Regions from separate parts of the Homo sapiens genome. Here region 1 is linked to region 2. Evidence: fine-mapped expression QTL. Tissue or cell type: whole blood. Region 2 holds a variant in brackets; the other region holds the start of a gene. All regions are shown on one strand. Distances are between the middles of the regions.

Evidence for each region. PIP is the estimated chance that this variant, and not a neighbour inherited with it, causes the effect.
Region 1: it holds the start of FAM53B, and the variant in region 2 is fine-mapped to the expression of FAM53B in whole blood (TOPMed, PIP 0.95).

What each region holds. Positions count from the first base shown.
Region 1 is chr10:124,742,422-124,746,594 of GRCh38, reverse strand. It overlaps FAM53B (family with sequence similarity 53 member B), which reads left to right and starts at 2,217. Exons shown (of 5, transcript NM_014661.4): 1 at 2,217-2,582. RefSeq lists silencers at 1,979-2,118, 2,249-2,298, 2,319-2,428, 2,479-2,638, 2,959-3,168 and 1 more.
Region 2 is chr10:124,636,581-124,640,971 of GRCh38, reverse strand. The region is part of intron 4 of FAM53B (family with sequence similarity 53 member B); the gene reads left to right. Among named protein-coding and RNA genes, the nearest start is that of FAM53B-AS1, 65 kb to the left of the region's middle. RefSeq lists enhancers at 361-1,100, 2,259-2,759. The variant T/C (reference allele first, on the strand shown) is at 2,187.

The sequences.
Region 1 (4,173 bases), 110 kb before region 2:
CCTGCATTTTATATTTCCCAGGGTGTTCTCCGGCTTAATCAGGTTAGCGTTGGTTGGTGATAATGGAAAAGTTACAAGTAATAGTTTTTAGATTATTTATGGATTTATTCCTAAATTGGCCTATGAATTTGCATTTAGGTGTCTGGTTGTGTGCAAAATCTGGTTTTGACCATTTTGGATTGAACAAAGATAGACAGTTTAGCTCCATGTCCCCACCCCATTGCAGCTTTTACATAGCTTTAAATCTAGAGTTCTACATTTTTAGCTACTCTTCTGAATTGAGCAGAACTCTAATATAACAACAACCTTTTGGGTAGAATTTTTTCTTAGTAAAGAACTATGGAGCTGAGCACTAAGAAGTGAGGATGTTTTATAATATAGCTGTAGGATTATTATATCATGTGGGAAGAACCTATAGTATGGAAGGTTAAGTGTGACACAGGTCTTAATGTATGCATATCTTTTTAGCCTTTGGAGATACAAATCTAGAAAATGAGAAGTAACTATTTATTGGTTAATAGCATAACTTCTTAAGCAAGTATATTCTAGACAGCCTCAAGAAAGCCTCAGAACCAGAAAAACAGGCTGCTTTAGGTTGGAAAGGAGGTGTTACAGCAGAGGAACTGGCCATGACCACCATCCTTGGAATGTGAAACGCAAATCATCCTGAAAGCAACAAGAATAATGGTTGTAATAATTGTTTCCAGGCCTGGGACCCTGCATCTTGTTTTTTAAGTTGACCTGATGAACTAGTAATTGTAGGAATAAACTGAATGTTTGCCAGCAGGAGTCACTCTAGGCTTCCTAATAAAACGTTAGTAAATTAAACTCTGTCCTTAAAGCTCTGAAAGGCTGAGGTGATTGTGTGATATCAGATGGCTTTAGGGAAACACTGACTCTTTTCGTTAAGCATAGCAGCATTCTTAGATTATTCCTTGGGCCTTCTTTTGTTCACCATCGGTTCTTGGATCTTGTTCCTTTCAAGATTGGTCCTTAATGCATTTTTAAAAAGCAACGTATATGGGTAAGGATATCAATATCTTAGTATGCTGTATTCTGTATGTTAGCTCATTTTGGCTTTCTAGGATGAACTGACTCTATCCCACATCATGTAACTTGAAATGAATAGACTCATATCCTTTCCACTGATTGCTGTCCATTCTAATCATGCAGCAGAACTCAGTGGAGCGAGCTGTAGTGTGAAAGGAGATGTCAGTTCATGCTTTTCTGAAAAGAATGGGTCCGGTGTGATGATATTCTGAAATATTTCAGCAATAGCCATGAAATATAATAGTTTCCCAAGCACACAAAGCTCAAGAAGTTAATTGTTCATTTATGTTTGATACTGGGATTGAAACATTGGATTAAAACCAATTAAATGTTCCTAGAAGCAACAGAAAAAGTTTCCTTATTTATGAATAGAACCATTCAAATGGCGCAGACACAATCCATGTAAAGTAATGAGGTGTTTTGTTTTTTTGGCAAAGGAGAACACAAAACAGGCATAGGGAGTTTTAAAAAAACTTCTCTTTAAAAATCGCTTTTTGGATACAAGGTCAATAAAATAACATACACCAGTAGGAAGGAGTAATGGGAAATCTAGGGCTTCACAAGGAAAACAATCCCCCTCCCCCAGGTGAGCAGCACAATGAAAATACTCTGCTTATTCTATCAGGGTTACATTCCTGAACTTAAGTCAACATCCTAAGTTACAGAACTAAACATGCTCTGCCTCTGCTTAGCAACCACAAATCCTTCCTTCGCCAGTTGCATGTATTTTGGATGTGGCTTCTGAAGTACACAGTCACAGCGCCCCGAGTTAGGAAATTTGCGCTTTATTTTCCCAAAGTGTGACAACACTTTAAGGTCCCCCCTCCCCGACCCCACCCGCCCGCTGTCCTGCACGCCACTGAAGTGATCGTTTCTTTTGAACCTCGGCATCTAACAACCCGGAAGCTGGACGCCTGAAGCCTATGCGGCCCAGCGTTTTCATCCCGGCTCGTGCTGGGGGCGGGGAGAGAAGCCCGTAGGGCCTCTGGCGCGGGGCCCGGGCAGCCGCGGTGGCGCGGCCCAGGCCCGGGGCCACTTCCCGCGTCCCGGGGCCTCGCAGGCGCGAGCGCGGCGAGCGGCGCGCGGCTGAGCCCGCAGGACGCCCTCTAGCCCCGCCGGCGGCGCGCCGCGAGTCCCTCACTCCCCGCCCATCGGCGGCTGCGCGCACTGCACACTCGCCTGCCGCCGCCGCCGCACGCCGCCTGCCTCCTGCACGCCGCCGCCGCGCCTAGCGCCCGGGCCCGCGACACCGCCCGCTAAGCGCCGGGCCGAGTTCACGCAGCCGCGGTCTGGCGGCTCCGCGGCGGCGGCGGGTGCGGGCGGCCTGGCCGGTGCCGGTTAAAGGGACGAGTTGCAAACACTTCAGGAAGTGACAAGTCGATTTCCTCCTCCCCGGGAGTCGCTCGTACAAAGCGCTCGGCGCCGGCAGGCGAGCGTGCGCGCGGCGGACGCGCGGCGGGCACCCCGGACGACTTGGCGAGCGCTGGCGGTGACGGCGCGGGGTCCGCGCCCGGAGCGCCCCGCCGCGCACAGTAAGCGACCCGGGGCCGGGCGGCGGCGGCGGTGGCCGGGGGGCTGGCCCCGAGCGAGGTCCGGGCCGTGTGCGTCCCGGCCGCTGGCTGGAGGGAGCCCGGCTCGCGTGCGCAATGGGCTTGCCTTTTTTTTTTCTTTTTTCCTAATGTTGCTGGTTTCCTTTTTTTCTGCCTTGTTTCGCCTTTGGGTTGGGTCGGGCGGTTTCTCCGGGCGCTCGGTCTCGCCCCTGATGCAGGCGTGAGACTTGTCAGAGCACAGGCATGGGGAAGAACAAGCCTGGCTGCGGCGGAAAAGTCTGCGCTCCCCAGGCCAGGGCGGGCGGGCGCGGGGACTGCTGCGCCCGGGGGTGTCCTCTCCGCGTCTCAACTTGAGCCCTGACTAGCCGCTGCGGAGGAGGCGCGGAGTCTCGGGAGCCGGGCGGCCCCATTCGCCCCGAAGTTCCCGCATCGTTTGCAGACAACTCTTTTGTTCGCGGAAGTTTGCACCCGCCACCCCCGGGGTGCGGGAGCGAGGCGGCGGGCTCCGCTGCTGCTGGACTGTCCGGGGCGGTCAGGATGGGGGTGAGGGGGCATTCTGTCCCGGGCGGGGGAAGCCCGCGGGGAGGCCACCGCTGGGGCTTGCGGAGTGGGGGCGTCCGCGCCGGCGTGGCTTTTGCACATGGCGAGAAGGGCCGTCCGGCACAGGCACACTGGTCGAGTCACATTTTTGCTAGTCTTGGATTTTGCAAGCCCGTGGGAGTCAGGTTCCCCGCTCAGGGTTTCTCTTGGGGCAGAGACGAAAGAAACGAGGACACCCAGAATCCGGGGAGGGTTTGCGGTTTGTGTTGTCCCAAGTGTGTTCTCGCTCCCCCCGCCCCCCCACCTTGTCCCCCAGCCCCCAGCTCTCCACCCCCATTTTCGGACTTGGGGAACAATGCTTGTAGTACGGGCCGGGGCGCCGCAGCAGCGACGAACCGCGCGGACAGGTTTGCCCGGGTCCCTCGCGTTCGGACGCCCCCTGAAGCCGAGCTCCTTCCATCTGACCGCCCGGGCTCATTAACACGTACTGTACTTAGGACGATGGTGAACAAAGAAAAGCTCTTTGCAGCGTTTGATGAATGGGATTCTGCCTCCTATAGGCCACACTCCGAGTCTTCCATACGGTACAATCTCCGGACTCGGTGGTGTTAGGAAAGTGGCCCCCGGAATGGCTTGCATTCCGGGTCTGGGATCCTGGGGTGGGCATTTGTGCCGTCGCCTTCGCCGCCGCGCTCGCCTTGCAGGAGCGGGTGCAGATGGAGCCAGGCTGACGGTTGTTCAACAGGAACAAATGTTTGTTCAATTGTTGGATGGTGGAGAAAAGGGACTGTTTCCTATTGACTGCTGCAGGAGTTGGAATGGCATTGTTTATTGGCCTGGGAAGCCAGGCAAGCGTCTTGTGCTGCTTACAACATATTAGCAGACTTCCAAATGACATGCTAGCATATGTGTTCCCAGCAGTCCCCACCGGCTGGCAGGGAGATTCCTCCTTGCTCCAGATCCTGGACTCGTTTAAAAGATGCCACCTGGTTTGAGGACTTGGGAAGGAATGGAGTCAGCCGACCAGGTGAAA
Region 2 (4,391 bases):
CAGCCTTTGTCCCTTCCTCCCATCTGGCTGAGGGCTCTTCCTAGTGTGGGGTCAGCGGGGCGTGCCCTCTGCGGCCTTTGCCGGGCTGTTGCCTCACTCTGCTCTGCCGCAGCGGGGGCTGTCTTTTTCCTCCTCCTCTCTTCCTGCGCTCGGGGCTGTATTGCATGGTGGTCAGCGCCTGATCCCGGATTCAGACTGCTGGCACCTAGATCCTCCCCACTCACTCCCTGTGTGGCCTCACCAAACCTCTGATGACAGTAGCGCCCCCTCCCAAGGTTGAGGTGAGGGTTTAGTGGGGCGATCCCATGGAGCTCAGGGTAAATTCTTAGTAAACATTAGCTCTGCCATCATTCGAGGCTCTGCAGCTGCTAGGACACCAGAACGAACCTCCAGAAATGCCCTGCCTTTGTTCCCAGGACAAGACAAGATTCTAGGGGATGACGGACTGGTGGGATTCATGGCATCTCCACCTTTGGGTTGGTTTTCTGCACAGGAAGAAACACATGGATTTAAGAATGATTTAGGGTGGCTCCAAGCCCTGCACATTCTTCAGGGGCCATCTTGGTGTGCCCCCTACTCCCCTTGTTATCCCAGCCACTGCCTGCCCTTTTCTGGGCCAAGGCTTGGCTGCTCAGGAACACGATCCCTCCCCAACCTGCCGCGCAGAGCTGTGCAGGCTGAGGGTGCTGGCCGGAGAGGTGTGGAGGGCCTGAGGCTGTGCTGCTCCTCACACTCGCAGACAAGCCCACGGGGTGCACCTGAGAATGCACCTGTAGCAAGGTGCAGCCGTCAGGGCTCCCTGAATTGCCTTCTTTGCTGCTCCAGTTGGTGTGGTGGCTCTGCCCAAGGGCTTTCAGCCTTGTAGTTGGGAATTTTTACCAAGCAGCAGGCAAGGCTTGCTGGGGGTTCCTAGGGGTAGAAAGTGATTTTCTGCCATCCTGAATTCTGGTATTTTATGGTAGCAGTGAGGTGCAGCGTGGTGGTTAAGGGTGGGTGCAGGCTTTGAACAGACAGATCTGGATTTGAACCTGGCCCTGCCACTGCCTCTCGGTGGGAGTTTGCCCAAACCAACCTCTGTCTCTCCAGGTGTAAAAGGAGGCTGGCAGAGCCTGTCCCTTGTGCCTGGATGATGAGCTGATGGAGGTGAGAGGTCCCCCCATGCCCGCCCCAGGCATCTGTCTCCAGCACTTTCACTCAGACGCAGCTAGGCACTCTGGGATGCGGGCGCTGTGTTTGTATATTCTGCCAAGCATTTAAACAGTAATGAACAAAAGGGGAAAATATAGAAAGGGGGGGAAAAGCCTATCAGAAAATTCATAGTTATGTTGAGGTGTGTCCCTGGGAAAGTCAAAAGAACAGAGACCCACCCCGGCCAACCCTTCTGGAGCCTGAGTTGGGCCTCTGAGTGGGAGCCCCACCTGCCAAGCACCCTGGGCCTTGAGCTGGGTCTTCCCAGGACCCCTTCTGATCCAGCCTGCACAGCTGCCTCGAGAGGTCTGCCTCGTGATGCCCACCATGACCCGCCCAAGGCCACTCAGCTAGACAGAGCAGATTTTCTATTTCTGTGTCTGTTTGGTGGCAAACAGCATGCCCCGGGCTGCATGCCCACTGCTGAGGATGGGCCCTGTCCTCAGCCCTCTTGGGGATCTCCTGGCACCTCCAGTACTCTTTAAGGAAACATTTCCTGAGTGCCTGAACCTGGCACAGAATCCTGACCTCCTGCTGGGGTGGGTCTGGCCCGGTCCTGGTAGAAAATACAGAACCCAACCCCCCATGGCCCACCTCTGAATCCCTGTGGTCCAGAAGCCCTGAACTAGGGGCTCCCTGTCAGGTGTCACATTGGGTTAGAGAGACGGGACTTATATGGGCAAGAGGCTGAGCCACCCCAGGAAGGGTCCCTGGTGGGTAAGTCTGGGGTGAGTCTCCCCACATCTCCACCCAATAGCTAAGCCAGTATTTGGTTTGCCTCCAGGTGAGAAAAGCCTTAGCAAATGCAGTCTCCAGCAGGTCCTGTGGGGCTCAGGGAACACCAGGGCCCTACATATACTTTGTCCCCACCACTCACTTCTGGCGCTGCAGGTGGGGCCAGCTGAGCCCAGAGGAGCAGAATGTGCCCAGGAATGTCCTTCCACACCCACCACCAGCGGGCATGTCCATGGCCAGCTGCCCTGCTGGACGTGCTGGGA[T/C]GTGCTGGCCAAGCCTTGCTGGTCTGCCACCTTGTCCTCGCCCCTGAAGGGCTCCAGTAGCCAGCGAGGGCCAGCATGGCCTCCCCCGCCCCAGCATGCCTGGGGTCTCTGCTTTCATGGACTGTTTGTGGGTGGGGTGAGGTGGTCAGTGGTCCTCCTTGTGCTGTGTCTGCCTGGGGCTGCTCGTGGGCAACGTGGGTCACTCCCTCTGTCGTGGTGCAGCTGGCACCATCAGGTGCTGTTCAAACCCCTCTGAGCCCCGAGCTGCTTGTGATCTCATTTCAACTCCATGCAGCCCCTCTAGGGCAGTTTTATTTCCCCATTTTACAGATGGGAAAAGAGAAACTCAGATTGCGTAACATGCCCAAGGAAGCACCGGTCCCAGTGTTTTGTTTTGTTTTGTTTTGTTTTTGAGGTGGAGTCTCTGTCACCCAGGCTGGAGTGCTGGAGTGCAGTGGTGCAATCTTGGCTCACTGCAAGCTCCGCCTCCCAGGTTCATGCCATTTTCCTGCCTCAGCCTCCCGAGTAGCTGGGACTACAGGCGCCCGCCACCACACCCTGCTAATTTTTTTGTGTTTTTTGTAGAGACGGGGTTTCACTGTGTTAGCCAGGATGGTCTCAATCTCCTGACCTCGTGATCCGCCTGCCTCAGCTTCCCAAAGTCCTGGGATTACAGGTGTGAGCCATGGCGCCAGGCCCGGTCCTAGTGTTGACAGGCAGGATCCCACCCCAAATGGATCATCATTTCAGTCCTTCATTCAGCCACCTGACCCTGTTTTTCCAGGCATCAGGGTTGCAGCCCACAGAGGCACTCAGACAGGGAGGGCCCACCAGCTCCTGGGTGCGGGGGGCTCCAGAATGGAGAGCGAAATTCCCTCTGCCTGCACAGAGAGGCTCCATGGAGGCTTTGATAGGGCTGGGGTGGCTGTTTCATTTCAGCTGGGCTATGCAATGGCAGGAAGAGTCTTTCGGGAGAGAGAGGTTTAGGAAGCGGGCGATCCTGGCCTATGGAGGGCACTCCATGGGAGGGGCTCCATGTGTCCAGGGGAGCCTGAGTAGGCAGGGAGGGTATGAGTGAGATTGGCCTGGAGATACCGGGCCTTTAGCCCTGGAGTGAGGTGTTTGCTTTTTATTCTGAGAGCTTGGGGAGGAAGGTGCTGGATCAGGTTTGAGACACATTGAGCTGAGAGGAGCGTGGGACATCAGCAGGGACATGCCCATTGGGTCTGGAGCTCAAGATGGGATCTGGCCTATGGTGGCCATTAGGGTGGTCAGCAGTACAGGTCTGAGTTGGATTTGGTGCCCGGTCGCAAGTTGCATCGAAGCTAGTCTCGGTGCAGTGGCTTTGCAGGGTAGGGCAGGGACACCCGGGGCTCAAGCCGAAGACCCTCATTGTGCAGATGGGCCCAGAGCAAGCAAGACTTCCCCAGGGCATGCCCAGCACAAGGCGGCTGGAGCCAAAGCCAGGCACCCACGTCCTGCCAGGTACGTCCTGGACCTGCGCTGCCTCATGGCATGTCTGGTTGTCTCCTGCCACCTGCGGACCCTGTGAGGCCCAGCACCAGCAAGGGTGACCCAGCCCCTGCTCAGAATGGAGGAGAGATGGAGGTCCCCAGAGGTGCATCTAGACCCCATTTCCAAGGGGGCCCTCTCGAGTGGGAGCAGGGAGCATTTTGTCAGAAAGGGCAGCCTCTGGAGGGTTGTGGTGACTGCTTGCTCCTGGAGTTTTCTGTGCTGAGGCCTCTTTGGGCAGATAAATCAGTTGTGTTTCTGCAGCGCTTGCCTGCCTTCTCCTTATGACTTCTGTTTTGATGTTGGGAGGAAAGAAGTCTCGCTCCCCCCAGATCGAGAGGAAGTCTAGCTGCACCTGACTCTGGGAACTCCGCCTCTGCATCTCTTCTGCTTGGTGGGTGTGAAAACACGGCCAGTGGGAGCGGGGCTCTGGCGTCACAGACATCAGAACTGCAGACACCTGGCCCAGGTGTCCGTGTTCTGTGTGTCCTGCGGCCACCGAGGCTGCTCACAGACATGAGAGGCCATTCCCCACCCAGAACCATTGGTGACAAACAGGCAGCCTCCTCTAACCTCCGCAGGATGGGGCCCGGCCTGGCAGCTGCCCCCAGTGGCCAACGTGGGCCTCTGTGGACAAGACAGGTGCAGCTAAGGCTGCAGGTGCAAAGCAATCCCAGGGTGGGCGGGCAGGGG